2 separate regions of the Homo sapiens genome follow, and region 2 is linked to region 1. The links come from fine-mapping of genetic effects on plasma protein levels. A gene starts in region 1. The other region holds a variant in brackets. All regions are shown on one strand. Distances are from middle to middle.

Region 1 (9,609 bases):
TTAAAAGTCTTTAAAAAGTCTATTAAAAGTCTTTTAACAAACTTTATAAAGTCTATTAAAGTCTTTTAAATAGGAGTCTTTTAAAGAGGAATTTTAGGTTCATAGCAAAATTGAGCGAAAGGTACTGAGAGTTTCTGTATACTCACAGCCCCTACACACGCAGCCTCCCCACTATCAATATCCACACCAGAGCCATACATTTGTGGCTGATGAACCTGCACATCACTCTCACCCAGAGCCCACAGTTTACATCAGGACTCACTCTTGCTGCTGCATATTCTATGGGTTGGACAAACGGACAATGACATGGATCCACCATTAGAATATCACACAGAATAGTTCCACCTCCCCCAAAATCTTCTGTGCTCCACCTCTTCCTCCGAAACCCTAGCAATCACTGCTCTTTTTATTGTCTCCATAGTTTTGCCTTTTCCAGAACGTCCTGTATTTGGAATCTTACAGTCTGCAGCCTTTTCAGATTGGCTTCTTTTGCTTGGCAGTGTGCATTTAGGGTACCTCCATGTCCTTTCACGGCTGGGTCTCCTTTTTTACAACCTCTTATACCCACGTTTCTTTTTGCTTTTCCAGGAAGGAGAAAGATGTGGAAGAGACCTTTGCTTTCCCCAGGACAAACCTCTGTCCCCATGTGCAGTGGCAGTGGGGGTGGTGGCTGGTGAGACCTCCAGGCAGGAACAGGAAGCAAGCCCTCTCCCTGCTCACCCTCCTCTCTGAGCTTTCCCCACTCCACCCTGGCCGGCTGTTGCCTGCCACCAAGCACCCGGGCACCTTCTGTGATGTGCTGGGCTCCCGCCCTCACTTCCTGGCCCTCCTCCCTCTGTGTCCTGTTTCTTCTGCCCCTCACTCTGTGCCCTCCTTCCACTGCTTTTCTGTCCTCCAGGTCAGCCCCTTCTTGACTCTCCCGAATACCCATCAGAACGCACCTGTGTGCTCTGCTCCCAGTTCGCTCTGCTTCCAGCCTTTGCCCTTAAGCTGATCTCTGACTCCTTCTTGAAGTCAATCAGACCCCGCCCTGCAGGGAGGGACAAGGTGAGGCCTGAGCTGGCCTAGGAGGGGCCTATGGCTTGGGAGGTGCCTCTGTGGGCAGCTACAGTGGCGAGAGTGGGTTTGAGGAAGCTGGCTGTGCAGCACACTTGTCCTGAGTCTGTTTCCAGACAAGTGCCGCCTTCCACAAGAATTTGCCTTGGCTTCTCTGTGACGAGCCATGCAATGCCACGATCTGTTAATTTAGGTGGCATATTTTAGAGGCAGAGATAAGGACAAGGGGCCATTTCCTAGCCGGTAGTCTTACCTGAAGCTGACAGATGGACCAGGGCAGGGGCTGATAGAGGCTGGCACCCACAGCAAAACAGAGAATTCAACCGCTCCTAGAACAAGACACCAGAGGCAGAACCGTTTGGGAGGAGCAGCCACTCAAGACGAGTTGCAAACTTTGGCGGCTTTTTAACGATCTTTGAGACCCTGACCAGATTCAGAAAGGAGGAAGGACTTGGCTGGGAGAAAGCTGGCCAGGGTAGCTAAGGCTATGGCACAGAGCGGAGAGGGGAGAGGACACTGGGGCAGGTAGTGCCCATGCAGTGGGCGGACAGTGCTAACGCCCACTTAGTCAGGTTGAGAAGGGCGAACGTGGTGACCGGGGTAACTCCTAGTTGGAAAGGAAAGAATAGAGTCAGGAAAAGTTCGTGGCTCAGGAGTGCCAAGGGGTCATCATCCCCCATTACCAAGGTTTGGTTGCTCAGGGATTGCACACCGCTTTGTGGTTATAGGGGTTTTGTATTTCTCATCATCATCCTTCCTGCTGCCCGCAATGCAAGCCATTTCAGTGTGCACTGGCAGCTAGATGAAGGAAGGTGAACACACTTAGTCAACTTGAAGCTTGCTTGCAATTCCAGAAGGTCTTTGGTGTTTCTGAGGAAGGGGATTTGCCTTCCATGTTAAAATGATGATTGATACAAAGACAATGAATGCTAACGTCTTTCACCCTCAGTGTTCAAGAGGACTGTGAGTTATGTATTCTCAGTTATGGGCTCACCAACTCCGCAGAGAATTGGGGGGATTTGGATTAGAAGAGAGTTTCAGGAACAACCTGATTTTGAGGACTACAATCTGTTTCCATTCCACAAAGGAAACTGCGACAAAGTTAATGGAGTGAGGATGGATCGAGAAAAGAGACTTGCAAAGATTTAAAGGGAAAGGGGCCACATGCACATGATGGAGTTAGACCCTTTCACACACGGAAACGGACTCGAAAGGGACCAAAGACATACATGTAAGAGCTAAAACTGTAAAACTCTTAAAAAGAAAACATAGGAGTAAATCTGCTTGACTTTACATCTAATTCTTGGATGTGACCTCAAAGCACAAATAACCAAAGAAAAAAAAATAGATAAATTGACATCATCAGTATTAAAAGACTTTTATGCTTCAAAGGACACCCACAGGAAAATGAAAAGACAAAGCATAGAATGGGAGAAAATATTCACAGATTATATATCTGATAAGAAAATTATATCTAGAATGTAAGAAGAACTCTTCCAATTCCATAATAAGAGGCAAATAATCCAATTAAAAATGAGCCAAAGATCTGAATAGATATTCCCCTCACGAAGATACACAAATGGCCAATATGCACATGGAAAGCTGTTCAATGTCATTAGTCATCAGGGGATGCAAATCAAAACCACCAGGAGATACCACTTTATATCCACTAGGATGGCTAGAATTCAAAAGCAAGGTAATAACAGGTGGGGCCAGGAGGCAGAGAAACTGGAAGCCTCACAGGCAGTTCATGGTGAGATGACGCAGCCACTTCGGAAAACTGTCTGGCTGTTCCTCAAATGACTTAACGTTGTTATCATATAACCCAGCAATCCCACTCCTGGGTATATGCTCAAGAGAAAGGAAAGCCTATGTCCATGGGGAAACCTGTACCAGAGTGTTTACTGCAGTGTTATTCACAATAGCCAAACAGTGGAGACGACTCATATGTCTCTGCATTGATAAATGAGTCAACAAAATGTGGTCTATCCACTCAATGGAACATCATTCAGTCATAAAAAGGAAGGAATCACTGTTACATGACACAATGTGGATGAACCTTAAAACCACTACGGCAAATGAAAGAAGCCAGTCACAAAAGACCACATTATTCCATTTATATGAAACGTGTGGGGTAGGTAAATCTCTCAAGCAGATGAGAAGCACATTAGTGGTTGCTTAGGGCTGGGGTGCGATGGAGGGATGGGGTGAGAGCTAATGCTTATGGGGTTTCTTTTTGAGGTGATTAAAAAGTTCTAAAATTGAAGGTGATGGCTGCATGTACCTGTGAATGTACTAAAATGCATTGAATTATACACTTTAAATGGGTGAATTGTAAGGTGTGTCTCAATAAAGCTGTTTTCAAAAAGTGACAGGACTAATATCTAGAATACACAAGGAGCTCTTGCAAATCGGTCAGAAAGAGGCAGCAGTCCCCATGGAAACCTGGTAAAGAATCCCAAGGGTAACTTGCAGAAGAGGCACCCCAAAGGGCTAAAGAGCACATGGAAAGATGCTCAAATGTAGTGGTTACTAGAAAAATGCAAAGCATTCAACAACGAGATATAATTTTTCATGGGAAAGCTGGATGATGCCAAGTGTTGACAGAGATGTGGGGAAACGGGGACCTTATGTGTGGTTGTGGGAAGGGGTTATTGATGGCACAGCCATTCTGGAGGGCACTTTGCAGGGTGTGGGCAAATGAGAGAATTGCATGCTCTCCAGACTCAGGAACTCTGTCTCTTGGAATATATGTCAAAGAGGTTCTCACCCAGGCCTAGAGGTGGGATGCAGACACAAGTGGCTGTGAGGCTGGGGAGCTGGAGGCCATCGGGGTGCCACCCCCAGGAGAGTGGTCACTGCACACCATGGGGTGTTGTGCAGTTGGCGGGTGCAAAGGCATGGATGTCCACACAGCCACTCCTGAGAAGGGATCTCAGGATCATGGAAGACGCAGGATGAGTGATAGCACGATGCCATTACACAACAGGAAACACGTACACACCAAGCCACCCGCTTTCAAGAGTGGATACACATTAGAATGGATGTGAGGGCGGGGGTGGGAGTGGGAATACATACATACACACGTGAGAAAGACAAGAGAGAGGACTTGTATGGGCCAGTGATGACGACATCCATGCACTGAGGTAGAATTAATTCAGTTCTGCAATGGACGTCCATAAATAAATAAAAGAAAGGCCTGGGAGACAGACTGAGTGACTACAGGTCCTCACACCAGGGTAGATGTGGCTGAGGACAGGAACCACCACAGGTCCCGCACCTGGAGGATGCAGTGAGGGCAGGGAGGAACACTGCGTGTAGGCAGGGAGCTGAAGCACACCAGAAAGAATTGCATTTTTTATGTAACGGGGCCCATAACATGTACATAGAAGGATTAATATTACAAGGTGGCACAGAGTAAGTGCAACACATTGATGCCCAAGGGCCTGTCCTGCAAGGGCTTGGAAGGAGATTCCCCTCAAGACTGCAAGCCCCCAAGTCCTGGGACTCTATCCCCTCTGCAGTAGCCTCCATGGCTGCTGTCACAGAGGACCACACACAGGGGCTTAAAGTAACAGAAATGGGTTGTCTCACAGTTCTGGAGGCCTAAAGTGTGAAATCAAGGTGTAGGCAGGGCCATGCTCCCTTTGGAGGCTCAAGAAGAGGGTCCTTCCTCTCCTCTTCCAGCTTCTGTGTTGCCAGCAATCCTTGGTGTCCCTCAGTGCCTTGGCTTGTGGCCATGTCACTCCAATCTCTGTCCTCACATGGCGTCCTCCTTGTCTCAGTACCTCTATTTTCAAGAACACCAGTGATTGTATTGAGGGCCTACCCTACTCCAGTATGACATCATCCTAACTAATTCATCTGCAACGACCCTATTTCCAAATAAGACCATATTCTGAGGTTCCAGGGAGGACATGAATTTTTAGGGGGATGCTATGCAACCCAGCACACCTTCTTTACCTGCCTCATTGCAGAGAGCATGGTCCTTGGCCAGTGAGTGAATTCCAAGCCCTGTGCCCTGGGGGGCTGCTGCCCCGAGGATCCACAAGGTAGAGCCTGTGTGGGGTTTTGCGATACACGAGGGACTTAGGAGGAAGAGGACACACTGGGCAGGGGCGGGGGTGGGAGTGGGAGTGTGAGTGGGGGTAGGAGCAGAGTCCTGAACTGAGATGTGGTGTGTTTCCCAACATGGGAAAAGGTCAGGGCTGATGCGGGGAGTGGGGTGCGGTTTGTGTCGCTGTGCTGAGGAAGGGCAGGTGGTGTGTCTGGAAGGAGGAGGTAGAGTGAGGAACCTCCCTATGCGCTTCTAGAGAAGTGTGGGGGTGAAGAGGGGCTTGTGGGAATCCTATAGAGACAGAGGAGATAGAGAAGCCCTCTAGAGAGGCACTGGGAAAGCTGAGGCGAACAGAATCCTTGTGCAGAAAAGCTGGTAAGTCTGTTGTTATATACATATATATATTTGTAGAGACGGGGTCATGCTGTGTTGCCCACGCTGGTCTTGAACTCCTGGCCTCAAGTGATCCTCCTGCCTTGGCCTCCCAGAGTGCCGGGATTACAGGCATGAGTGACCATGTCTGGCCAAGGCCATTGTTTCTGCTCATGTTTGTGTGCACTGTGGCTGGGGAACTTGAGATGTCACACTTGAAATTTGGGGTCTGTTGCCTTGCCACCTCTCTTCCTGCTCCCTGGCTGGGGCTGGCCCCTCCATACTGAAGGTGACCTTGGTTTCTGAGGTGTGGTTCCTCGCTTGTGGAATTAATGATTGCTGACAGTTAGAGATAGCACTTGGGCAAAGACCGTATCCTGTCAGTTGTTCGCTGCTTGCCTTTCTTAAGGAGGTCCAGGCCTAAGGAGGGGCAGCGCTATATACAAAGGTGGAGCTAGGAAGCCAGAGGTCACAGCTCACCATGTCCTGTGGCTAAATCTTGATATTTTGCTTTCAGAAAGTCACAACCTGTCAGAGCTAATTTGAGAGGATCTAGAGAGTGGGATTGTTTCCACGAAACCACAGAGAAGAAACAGAGCAACCCGCGCCTGCACCAGGACCTACTGGGGGTACACCAGGGAAGCTCATTCGATTAGATCTTTATGTGAATGAAGCCAACATCATAGCTTTTGTCCCTGATTAGGGAAGGTGGGTTTGTAAAAAAGAAAATTCCACCATTTTCTGAGGCAGGGCCATTGGTCATAAGGGGCCCTGGTGAGGTCCTGATGGCTTGGGCAGCCCCACCCAGAGAGGGGAGAACGTTCATCTCCAGGTGCTAGCCCTGCTTCTGCCACTGGCTGGTGGGCTTATACTTGACAGTCCTTAATTCATTCAACAAATGTTTATGGAGCACTCATTCTGCACCAGGGAGACACAGCAACGAACAAACAAAACCAAAGCCTCTATGGGGCTCATATTTTAGTGAAGACTATCCAACAGCGAAGCTTGTGAGCCTTCACAGCAGACCTCCTCACTGGGACAGCTGATGACAGGGGCTGGCCCTGGGCTGGCATCTGGGAACTTAACTTTCAGGATCCTGCCCCGCTGTGCCGGCCTGCTGACTGTTTTTACAGACAATGTGATTAGTGAACACCTGCTTTCCTATTGGGAATCTGGAATCTTGTTAGTTGTGGTGGGCAGAGAGTGTGCCTACGTGACCAGCCCCAACCTCTGCCCCAGCTCTGAGCTTCTACTTCCCTGGGGAGATGCAGGGCGCAGGGTATGCTCTGTGCAGCCTTCATGGGAGGGAGAGCTCAGCGAGTCTGTGCCCTGACCCCTCCAGACCCCGCTGTGTCCTTGCTGTGTGTTGGCCGTGGGTATAACTGTCTGCTTAGTCTGGTGAGTCCTAGTGAAGCTCTGACAGCAGAGGTGCCATGAGGTGTCACGGGTGTTCAGAGAGGTGTCCTGCAGGCGTTGGCGGCAAGTGGTGACCCAGTGTGTTCCAGTGGGGCACATGCTCAGGGGAAAACAGAGCAGGGGCATGTGGTGGGGGCAGGGCCTGACCTTTCAGAAAGGGGACTCCTCTTCTCCTCAATGTGGTGAAGGAGTGGGCCACAAGGATGCCTGGTGGCGGGGGCATTTCAGGCTGAAGGAGCAAGGAATGCAAAGTCCCTGATGCAGAGTGAGGGGACTGCTGTCGCCAGGGGCAAGTGGTGGCAGGTGGATTCAGAGAGTGACCAAACGCCCTCGCCTCCAAGGCTGTCACTGGGATTTTACTCTGAGCCACTTGGGAAGCCTCTGTCAGGTTCGTGCAGAGGCCAAAACTGACCTGCCTCTAGCAAGTGCTATCTGGAGGTGCTGGGGGAGACAGAATGCAAAAGAGTGAAGGCTGCAATGATGGCAGGAGCAGAGAGCAGGCCGGGGGGTGGTTGCAATAGTCTTGGGGGGCAAGGCTGGTTGCCAGGTCAGGGTTGCAGGGGTGGAAGTGATGAGAAGTGGCCACATTCTGGATGTAGCTGGAAGGGAGGCTGGGGGAGATTTGCTGAGGGCTGGGATATGAGACTCCAGAGAGAAGAGCCAGGTGACCCCAAGTTCGGGCAGAGGTTCTGCTCTGCTGGGGCAGCCAGGAGCTGAGTCAGGATGCTTCAGTGTGTGAGCATGGCTGGCTGCTGGCTGAGCCCACTTCTGGACTTTGATGCTGGATCCCAAGGCACATGAGGGGCAAGGGTGGAGGGAGCCCCAAGGAGACCTTTGTGAGGAGTCAGAGACCAGGGCTGGGTCCTCCAGGCGCTCTTTGTATCTTCACTGACCATGCCTGGCAGTGCTGGCCAGCTGACAGCTTCCCCGTCAAATCCCACATTCCTCCCTCCAGCTGCAGCTGTGTCTGGCAGCCGGGGCTGGGCAGTAGACACAGCAGAATTCTTCCTTCCTCCTGGCTCTCTTTAGTAGCTACCTCACGAAATGTGCATTGGATTCTTAAAGAAGAAAAAAATCAAGAGGCCAGAAAATCAGGAAGCAGAAGTTAAAATATGTTGCTGATCTTTGAAATAAAGAATTTGTGTTGGTAGACATGTGACCTTGTGTGGTGCAGGGATGTATTTGTGTTAAACCATTTTGGTGACTATGACATTCCAGGTGCATATTGGAGGTAGCATGTAGGACTTCAGAAATCACCAGAACAGTCACTGCCTCTGTGCAGCCCTTTGCTGAGCACAATTTTGGAAGGAAATATAGCAGCATGGTTACTGGTACAGGATATAGAGCCAGAAGGCCTGAGTTTGAATCCAGGTTCTACTTCTTTTAGTTGGATGTTATGTGGGAAAAGCGGTTAACTTTTCCTTTTAGAGACGGTGATTTTCTCTGGTGGTATGATTTGATTTCTTGCTTTTTAATTTTTGTGCATCTGTTGTATGTTTTTTGATTTGAGATTACCACAGGGCTTGCAAATACTCTTACAATCTATTAAGTTGATAACAACTTAACACTACTTGCATAAACAAGCAAACTAAAAAGCAAAAAGAACACTAATAAAGACTTTCTCTTTATCTTTGTTCCCCTACTTTTTGTTCTTTTTTTTTTTTGTTTGAGACAGCATCTCACTCTGTATCTAGGCTGAAGTGAGGTGCATGGCGTGATCTCAGCTCACTGCCACCTCCGCCTCTGGGGCTCAAGCGATCCTCCCACTTCAGCCCCCAAAGTAGCCGGGACCACAGATGTGAGCCACCATGCCAGTTAATTTTTGTATATTTTGTAGAGATGGGGTTTCGCCATGTCATCCAGGCTGGTCTTGAATTCCTGAGCTCAAGCAATCTGCCTACCTCTGGCCTCCCAAAGTGCTTGGATTACAGGGGTGCCCTGTGGGATTATAGGCAGAAGCCACCATGTGAGGCCTTCCCCCACTTTTTAACTCTTGATGTTTCCATTTATATCTTACCGTACTGTCTATGTTTTGAAAAGTTGTTATGATTTTTGATTGGTTCATATTTTGGTCTTTCTACTTAAAAGTAGTTTACACACCACAGTTACAGTGTTGTATTCTGTGTTTTTCTGTGTACTTACTAATACCCGTGAGTTTTGTATCTTTAGATAATTTCTTATTGCTCATTAACATCCTTTTCTTTCTGATTGAAGTACTCCCTTTAGCATTTTTTTGTAGGACAGGTCTGGTGTTGATGAAATTCCTCAGCTTTTGTTTGTCTGGGAAAGTATTTCTCCTTCATGTTTGAAGGATATTTTCACCAGATATATAATTCTAGAGTAAAAGTTTTTTCCTTCAGCACCTTAAATATGTCATGCCACTATCTCCTGGCTTGTAAGATTTCCACTAAAAAGTCTGCTGCCAAATGTATTGGACCTCCATTGTATGTTACTTGTTTTTTTTTTTTTTTTCTCTTGCTGCTTTTAGGATCATTTTTAAAAAAAATCCTTGCCCTTTGGGAGTGTGATTATTAAGTGCCTTGAAGTGGTCTTCTTTGGGTTCAATCTGCTTGGTGTTCTATAACCTTCTTGTACTCAGATCTTGATACTTTTCTCTAGTTTTGGGAAGTTCTCTGTTACTATCCCTTTGAATAAACTGTCTACCCCATCTCTTTCTCAACCTCCTCTTTAAGGCCAACAACTCTTAG
Region 2 (9,609 bases), 34 kb before region 1:
CTAGCACTTTGGGAGGCTGAGGTGGGCAGATCACTTGAGGTCAGGAGTTTGAGACCAGCCTGGCCAACATGGTGAAATCCTGTCTCTACTCAAAAAAAAAAAAACAAAAAAAAACCCAAAAATTAGCTGGGTGTGGTGGCACATGCCTGTAATCCCAGCTACTTGGGAGGCTGAGGCAGGGGAATTGCTTGAACCTGGTGTCAGGCCTCTGAGCCCAAGCTAAGCCATCATATCCCCAGTGACCTGCACGTATACATCCAGATGGCCTGAAGCAAATGAAGATCCACAAAAGTGAAAATAGCCTTAACTGATGACATTCCACCATTGTGATTTGTTTCTGCCCCACCGTAATTGATCAATGTACTTTGTAATCTCCCCCACCCTTAAGAAGGTTCTTTATAATCTCCCCCACCCTTAAGAAGTTTCTTTGTAATTGTCCCCACCCTTGAGAATGTACTTTGTGAGATCCATCCCTGCCCCTAAAACATTGCTCTTAACTCCACCTCCTATCCCAAAACCTATAAGAACCAATGATAATCCCACCACCCTTTGCTGACTGTCTTTTCAGACTCAGCCCGCCTGCACCCAGGTGAAATAAACAGCCTTGTTACTCACACAAAGCCTGTTTGGTGGTCTCTTCACACTGACGCATGAGACACCTGGGAGGCGGAGGTTGGAGTGAGCTGAGATCACGCCACAGCACTCCAACCTGGGTGACAGAGCAAGACTCTGTCTCAACTAAAAAAAAAAGAAAGAAATGTATTTTCTCATGATTCTGGAGTCTAGAAGTCTAAGATTAAGTCCTTGGAAATTAATTTCTTCTCAGGCCTCTCTCCTTGGCTTGTAGATGACCATCTCCTCTCTGTGAACTTCACGCTGTGCATTGTCTATGTCTTAATCTTTTTTTTTTTAATAAGGACACCAATTATTTTGGATTAGGTCCTCCCAAATTACCTCACTTACCTTAATTACCTCTTTCAAGGTCCTGCGTCCAAATACAGTCACATTCTGAAGAACTGGGGGTTAGGACTTCAATATATAAGTTTTGTTTTTATCGGGGGAGACACATTTCATCACATAACAGTAGTAATGTAGTAATGTCCCCTTTTTCATTTCTGATTTTGACAGTTTGAGCCTTTCTCTCTAGCTTTCATCAATCTAGCTAAAGATTTGTCCATTTTGTTGATTTTTTTTCAAAGAACTAACTTTTGGTATTATTGATGCTCTCTATTTTTTTCTGTTCTCTTTATCTCTGTTTTAATCTTTATTATTTCTTTTCTTCTGCTTGCTTTACGCTGAGTTTGCTCTTCTAGTGTTTTAAGGTGGAAGGTTAGTTTAGTGATAGAAAATTTCTTCTTTTTTAACATAGTTATTTATAGATATAAATTTTCTTCTAAGCACTGCTTTAGTTGCATCCTATACTGTGTCTTATATATTGTGTCTTCATTTTCATTCATGTCAAAGATTTTCTAATTTCTCTTGGGATTTCTTCTTTGACCCATTGTTATTTAGGGAATATGTTGTTTAATTTCAACTTATTGTGAATTTCTCAAATTTCTTTTTGTATTGATTTCTTTTATTTCATGTGGTCAGAAAACATATGTTATATGATTTTAACCCTCAGAAATTTATTGAGGCTTCTTTTGTGGCCTAGAAAATGGTTGATCCAACCAGGTGCGGTGGCTCATACCTGTAATCCTGGCACTTTAGGAGGCCAAGGTGGGCGGATCATGAGGTCAGGAGATTGAGACCATCCTGGCCAACATGGTAAAACCCTGTCTCTATTAAAATACAAAAAATTAGCTGGGTGTGGTGGTGCGTGCCTGTAGTCCCAGCTACTTGGGAGGCTGAGGCAGGGGAATCACTTGAACTCAGGAAGCAGAGATTGCAGTGAGCCAAGATCACACTACTGCACTCCAGCCTGGCGACAGAGTGAGACTCCATCTCAAAAAAACCAACCAACAAAAACCAACAAAACCGAAAATGGTTTATCCAGAGAATGTTCCATGTGCACTTGAGAAAAATTTGCTTTCATTGGGTGGGGTATTCTGTGGACATTTGTTAGGTCTAGTTAGCTTATAAACAGTCTTCTGTAGTCTTGTTGATCTCCTTCCTAGTTGTTCTGTTCTTTACTGAAAATAGGGAATTGAAGTCCCTAACTATTATTTTTACATTGTCTATTTCTCTTTTCAATTATTTTAGTTTAGTTTTATGTATTTTAGAGCTCTGTTATTAGGTGCATTTATGTTTATGATTATTATATTTCCCTGATGGATTAACTCCTTTTGTTATTGTAAAATGTTCTTTATCTTGAGTAACATTTTTGTTTTAATGTCTATTTTGTCTAATACTAGTATAGCTACTCCAGCTTTCTTATGGTAACTTTTGTATGATATATCTTTTCCCATCCTTTGCCTTTTGGCCTATTTATAATTTTGAATCTAAGATTCATCTCATATAGACAAAATATAGTTAGATCTTGCTTTTGTGTCCAGTTTGATAATCTCTGCCTTTTGATTAAATTGTTTAATGCCTTAACATTGAACATTGTTATTGATATAGTTGGATTTATATCTGCCATTTTGCTATTTGTTTTCTGTATGTCTTTTGTTTCCTGTATTCCTCCTTTATTGCTTTCTTTTGGATTAAGTGAATATTTTCTAATGTAACACTTTAATTCCATTAATTTTTTTGTCTGTATATTTTTCTTTTTCTTATTTTTTAATTTCAATAGTTTTTGGGGGTACAGGTGGTTTTTGGTTACATGAATACGTTTAGCAGTGATTTCTGAGATTTTAGCACACCCATCACCCGAGCAGTGTACACTACCCAACAGGTAGTCTTTTATCCCTCATCCTCCTCTCAACCTTCTCTCCCAAGTCCCCAAAGTCCATCATATCATTCTTATTCCTTTGAATCCTCATAGCTTAGCTACCACTTATAAGTGAGAACAAATGGCATTTGGTTTTCCATTCCTGAGTTATTTCACTTAGAGTAATGGCCTCCAGCTCCTTCCAGGTTGCTGCAAAAGACATTATTTCATTCATTTTTATGGCTGAGTAGTGTTCCTTGGTGTAGATATACCACATTTTCTTTATCCACTTGTTGGTCGATGCGCACTTAGGATGGTTCCATTTCTCTGCAATTGCAAGTTGTGTTGCTATAATCATGCATGTGCATATGTTTTTTTCATATAGTGACTTTTTTGTTTCCTTTGGGTAGATACCCAGTAGTGGGATTGCTGAATCAAATGGCAGTTCTACTTTTAGTTCTTTAAGGAATCTTCTTACTGTTTTCCATAGTGATTGTACTAATTTATATTCTCACCAGCAGTGTAAAAGTGTTCCTTTATCACCACATCCATGTGAACATCTATTGTGTTTTGACTTTTTAATTATGGCCATTCTTGTAGGAGTAAGGTGGTACCTCACTGTGGCTTTAATTTGCATTTCCCTGATGATTAGTGACATTGAGCATATTTTCATGATTGTTGGCTGTTTGTATATCTTATTTTGAGACATGTCTATTCATGTCCTTTGCCCACTTTTTGATGGGATTATTTAATTTTTCTTACTGATTTGTTTGAGTTCTCGTAGATTCTGAATAGTAGTCCTTTGTCAGATGCACCGTTTGCAAATATTTTCTCCCACTCTCTGGGTTGTCTGTTTACTCTGCTGCTGACTATTATTATTATTATTTTTTGCTGTACAGAAGCTTTTTAGTTTAATTAAGTCCCATTTATTTATTTTTGTTTTTGTTGCATTTGCTTTTGGGGTCTTAGTCATGAATTCTTTGCTTAAGCCAATGTCTAGAAGAGTTTTCCCAATGCTATCTTCTAGAATTTTTATTGTTTCAGGTCTTAGATTTAAGTCTTCGATCCATCTTGAGTTGATTTTTGAATAAGGTGAGAGATGGGGATCCAGTTTTATTCTTCTACATGTAGCTTGCCAGTTTTCCTAGCACCATTTATTGAATAGGGTGTTTCTTTTTTCCCAGTTTATGTTTTTGTATGCTTTGCCAAAGATCAGTTGGCTATAAGTATTTGGCTTTATTTCTGGGTTCTCTATTCTGCTCCATTGGTATACGTGGGTATACCTGCCTATTTTTATACCAGTATCATGCTATTTTGGTAACTATAGCCTTGCAGGATAATTTGATGTTGGGTAATGTAATGCCTCCTGATTTTTTGTTGTTGTTGTTGCTTAGTATTGCTTTGGCAATGTGGGCTCTTTTTTGGTTCCATATAAATTTTAGATTTGTTTTTTCTAGTTCCATGAAGAATGATGATGGAATTTTGATAGGAATTGCACTGAACCTGTAGATTGCTTTGGGCAATACGGTCATTTTCACAATATTGATTCTTTCCATCCATGAGTGTGGGATGTGTTTCCATTTTTTTGTGTCATCTATGATTTCTTTAAGCAGTGTTTTGTAGTTTTCTTTGTAGAAATCTTTCACTTTCTTGGGTAAGTACATTCCTAAGTATTTTATTTTTACAGCTGTTATAAAAGGGATTGAGTTCTTGATTTGATTTTCAGCTTGGTTGTTGCTGCTGTATAGCAGTGCTACTGATTTGTGTACATTGATTTTGTAATTTGAGACTTCACTGAATTTGTTTATCAGATCTAGGAGGTTTTTGGATGAGTCTTTAGGGTTTTCTAGGTACATGATCATATCATTGGTGAACAGCGACAATTTGACTTCCTATTTTCCAATTTGGATCCCCTTTATTTTTTCTCTTGTCT[G/A]ATTGCTCTGGCGAGGACTTTTAGTACTATGTTAAATAGAAGTGGTGAAAGTGGGCATACTTGTCTTATTCCATTTATCGGGGGAATGCTTTCAACTTTTCCCCATTCAGTATGGTGTTGACTGTGGGTTTGTCATATACGGCTTTTATTACTTTGAGGTAAGTCCCTTTTATGCCTATTTTGTTAATGGTTTTTATCATAAAGCAATGCCGGATTTTATAAAATTATTTTCTGCATCTATTGAGATGATCAGATGATTTTTGTTTTTAATTCTGTTTATGTGAGAGATCACATTTATTGACTTGAGTATGCTAAACATTCCCTGCATCCTTGGGATGAAACCCATTTGATCATGGTGGATTATCTTTTTGATATGCTGTTGGATTTGGTTAGCTAGTATTTTTGTTGAGGATTTTTGCCTCTATGTTCATCAGGGATATTGGTCTGTAGTTTTCTTTTTTTGTTATGTCCTTTCCTGGTTTTGGTATTCGGGTGATACTGGCTTCATAGAATGATTTAGGGAGGATTCCCTCTTTCTGTATCTTTTGAAAAGTTTCTGTAGGATTGGTACTGATTCTTCTTTGAATGTCTGATAGAATTCAGCTGTGAATCCATCTAGTCCTGAACTTTTGTTGTTGTTGGAAATTTTTTTTATTACTGTTGAAATCTCACTACTTGTTATTGGTCCGATCAGGGTTTATATTTCTTCCTGATTTATTCTAGGAGAGTTGTATGTTCCCAGGAATTTATCTATTTCCTCTAGATTCTCTAGTTTGTGTGTGTAAAGCTATTCATAGTAGCCTTGAATGATTTTTGTATTTCTGTGGTATTGGTTGTAATATCTCCAGTTTCATTTCTAATTGAGCTTATTTGGATAGTCTCTCTTCTTTTCTTGGTTAATCTCATTTATCTGTATTTTTTTTTTTAGTTATTTTCTTAGTGGTTGCTCTAGGCCTTACCATACACATTTTAACTTATCAGAATCTGCTTCAGATTATACTAACTTAATTCCAACGAGTTATAGAAATGCTGCTTTTGTATAGCTCTATATTCTGTTCTCCTTTTGTGTCATTATTGTTATACATATTATATCTATATATGTTGCAAACCCAAAATAACATAGTTATAACTATTACTTTATGGAATTCTGTACCTTTTAAAGAAGCTGAGAGAAGAAAGGAAAGCAAGTATGTATTTATAGATTTTGTTATATTAACCTTCTTATTTATCATTTTTGGCTCTTTTTATTGTACCTGTGGATTCAAGTTACCATCAGCTGATATTTCCTTATTCCAGTGCAGCTTTGCTCCCACCTACTGGTTTTGTGCTATTATTGTAAAATAAATACATTTCTATATGTGTAGACCCAACAATACAATTTTAAACACATACACACACACACACACACACACACACACACAGAGCCCACAATTGCTTTTAAAATTAGTTAAGTAAAGAAAGAAGAAGAAATATGCATTTACACTATTGTTTTTATAATTACAAAATTATCTACATTGGTGCTCTTTAAATTTTGTTTGTGGGTTTAAGTTACTGTCTAGGCCATTTGCTTTCAGCCTAAAGAATTTATTTTGCTATTTTTTGTGAGGTGGCATGCCAGCAAGGAATTCTCTTAGTTTTTGTTTATCTAAGAATGGTTTTATTTTACTTTCATTTTTAAAAAAACAATATTGCTGGATATAAGATTCTTGCTTGACAGTTTTTTTTCTTTCAGCACTTTAAATATGTTATCTCAGTGCCTCTGGCCTCCATTATTTCTGATGAAAAGTCAATTGTTAATCTCATTGGGGTTCCCTTGTATGTGACTAGTATTTTTCTCTCGGTGATTTCAATATTTTCTTTATGTCTTTGGCTTTCAACATTTTTAAGATGATGTGTCTGGGTTAAATCTGTTTTTGTTTCTCCTAATTGAAGCTTGTTGAGCTTCTTGAACATGTGGATTAATGTTTTCCATCATATTTGGGAAGTTTTCAGGCATTATTTCTTAGATTTTTTTTTCTGTTTTCTTCTCTCTCTTCCTCCTTCAGTTACTCCCATTTTGCATATTTGGTACACTTAATAATGTCACACATTTCTCTGAGGCTCTGTTCATTTTTCTTTCTGCTTTTTTTCTCTCTGCTTTTCAAATTGCATAATCTTTATTGATCTGTATTCAAGTTTGCTGATTTTTTCTTCTTCCAGTTCAAATCCACTACTCAGCTCCTCTAGCAAATTCTTCATTTTAGTTATTATATTTCTCAACTCCAGAATTTCCATTTGGTTCTTTTAAAAAATACTTTCTGTTTTTATATTAATATTCTCTATTTGAGTGGACATTGTCATAACCTTATTCACTTCTTTAAGCATAGTTTCCTTTAGTACTTTGACCATATTTATAACAGCTGCTTTGATGTCTCTGTTAATTCCCCCATCTGGGCCCTCTCACAGAGTTTTTGTTGCCGGGTTTTTTTATTCTGTGGGTTATACTTTTCTGTTTCTTTGCATGTCTCATAATGCTTTGTTGTTAAAAGCTGATCATTTTAGATAACATATTTTAGATAATATATTGGAGCAACTCTGGATACTGATGCTGCCCTCCCCTCCACGTACTCCTTACTCCTGGCCAAGGCTTCTTGTTGTTTTTGGCTTATTTGTTTAGTGACTTTGCTTGACTATTTTGTGAAGTGTATTTCCCCATAATGTGAAGCCTCTGATTTCACTCCTCAGAGGGCACAGCCTTAGGTACATGTACAGTCAGTCATCTGGGGTGACAGAAGTTTTAACCGGCCTCTCTTTAATTTTCTCATTTCCTGATCTCTTTGCTAAGCCATCAGTCTCTGTTGGCATCACACCCAGCTGTCAGGGTACACTAATTACTGGCTGATTTTCTATTGTTTTTCTACAATGCCTGGAGTATGCAATGCTTCACAGTATGATCCAGATAAATTTGGGTCCCTTTGTAGGATTGTTTTGAGTCCAGTCTTTGGGGTTTGTTCAGACAGTGGAAGGACTCTTCTTAGCTATTTGTTTTGTTTTCTCTGGTAAACTGGCTGGCATATAGTTTATCCCATTATCTTTATTGTTTACCACCAAAATCTCCATTGTTTTTGCGAGTTCCCTTATGCTTGAACTTCTCTACATCCTGTTTTAAATCAAGTTAGTTTCTTGGGGGGTCGGGGGAGAGCTTCAGTGCTCTCTGTTCTTATGATCTACCTCTTCCTTTGGGCAAAATCTTTGAGTCACTGCTCAAGACCTGGGGGTAGGGGCTGTGGCTGGCTTCTCTCAGAGCCCTCCTGCTTTACAGAGCAGGGCTCTGCGTGGTGGCAGTAGCCTCTTGTCTTCTCAGGTTGCTGTTGTAGCATGGAACCTCTGATCCAAACGCAATTGGGGCTTCAGTAATTTCAGCCTGCATCACCTGGGGTAGTCTCCACCTATGAGTGGGGACTGGGTGGAGGAGAGAAGCTTCCATTCTCTCAGCTGCACTCATCTACAATTTAGCCTGTGCAAAATGGGGGCTGAGGAATTCTGGTGGCCTGCCTCTTCTGGGGAGCCATTGTATTGCTTGACTGGGAGCTGGATGGAGAGGGAGCTGTGTTTTCCTGGCTAAGTCCATGAAGAGTGGAGCTTCTGTTAAGTGAGTTGGGGGGATGGAGGAGAGAGGAAGTGAGTCATGGCTCAAGTGTCATAGATTCTCATTGTTCTTATTGGGAACAATTTCCAGAGACTTTAAATGCTTAAAAATCATTTAACTAGATATAAGTGTTTTGCTGGGGAGCAGGTCTGCAGAGCTCCTCATACAATCATTCTGGAAGTGGTCTCTGCTTTTTTCTCTTCCTTCTTTTTTCTTTCTTCCCTTTCTTTTTCTTTCTGTGTGTAGTTTCTGTTTTGTTTTGTTAACCTATGGATCAACAGCAGAAGATGTCAGATGTAAGAAATGATGGTAGGACGTGGGATGCTATTAGTAGGTATATCAGCTAATGTTGAAGACACTACTCTTAAATCAAGGAAAATATGATCAGAATAATAAATTTTTAAAGTATAGTGAACAAATTCTTCAGTAAGGCTGAAGGTTAAAAGTAAAAAGTTTCAAAGCAATACTTTTCTTGGCTCTTCTTTATAATAATTTATTGTCTAGTGAGCTACTAACCCTTTTTCTTTATGACTTGATTGCCCCCGTATGCTAAAATACTTGCTGTTTTACTTTTCCTTTCATTGACATTTACAATCCTTTGTCTTTTAGTAGTTTCACAAGCTTTGAAACAATGTTTAGATAATTTTAAAAAATAAAAATAAAACAATGCTAAGGGTACAATCATTGATGTTTTAAATATATCAGCTGCTATAAGGCACTTTGTCCAATTTTCATAATAATTTTGTCTTAATGGTGTTAAGAGCAAAGATTTAAGATTTACTTTCTTAGTGCCATAAAAATAAGAGCTATTCAGCTGGGTTTCTGAAATATTAAGTGCAATGCAAAAGTTTGTTTGCCTAATATCCCTGGACACCAGGCTTCCCAAAATATCCTGCCCCAGACCATAGCCACATCTTCCCACTAGATTCCTGGGCAACTAGAAACAATGGTAAAGGAAAACAAGGTCACACAATTTTTTTTGAGATGGAGTCTTGCTCTGTCACCCAGGCTGGACTGCAGTGGCGCGATGTCGGCTCACTGCAAGCTCAGCCTCCCTGATTCACACCATTCTCCTGCCTCAGCCTCATGAGTTGCTGGGACTACAGGCGCCCGCCACCACGCCCAGCTAATTTTCTTTTCTATTTTTCGTGGAGATGGGGTTTCACCATGTTAGCCAGGATGGTCTTGATCTCCGACCTCGTGATCCACCCGCCTCGGCCTCCCAAAGTGCTGGGA

Evidence for each region. A credible set is the group of variants that fine-mapping cannot tell apart. PIP is the chance, under the fine-mapping model, that this variant and not a neighbour inherited with it causes the effect. The UK Biobank Pharma Proteomics Project read protein levels with antibody pairs (Olink). The fine-mapping took linkage between variants from a reference panel, not from the people measured, so its PIPs are less certain.
Region 2: its variant is the best candidate, but not a certain one, in a credible set for the plasma level of the AOC1 protein (UK Biobank, PIP 0.51).

Annotation. Positions count from the first base shown.
Region 1 is chr7:150,843,891-150,853,499 of GRCh38, reverse strand. It overlaps AOC1 (amine oxidase copper containing 1), which reads right to left and starts at 983. Exons shown (of 5, transcript NM_001091.4): 1 at 942-983. All of the region lies in intron 1 of LOC105375567 (a long non-coding RNA gene), which reads left to right. RefSeq lists an enhancer at 830-1,401.
Region 2 is chr7:150,878,292-150,887,900 of GRCh38, reverse strand. No RefSeq gene overlaps it. Among named protein-coding and RNA genes, the nearest start is that of AOC1, 31 kb to the right of the region's middle. The variant G/A (reference allele first, on the strand shown) is at 4,746.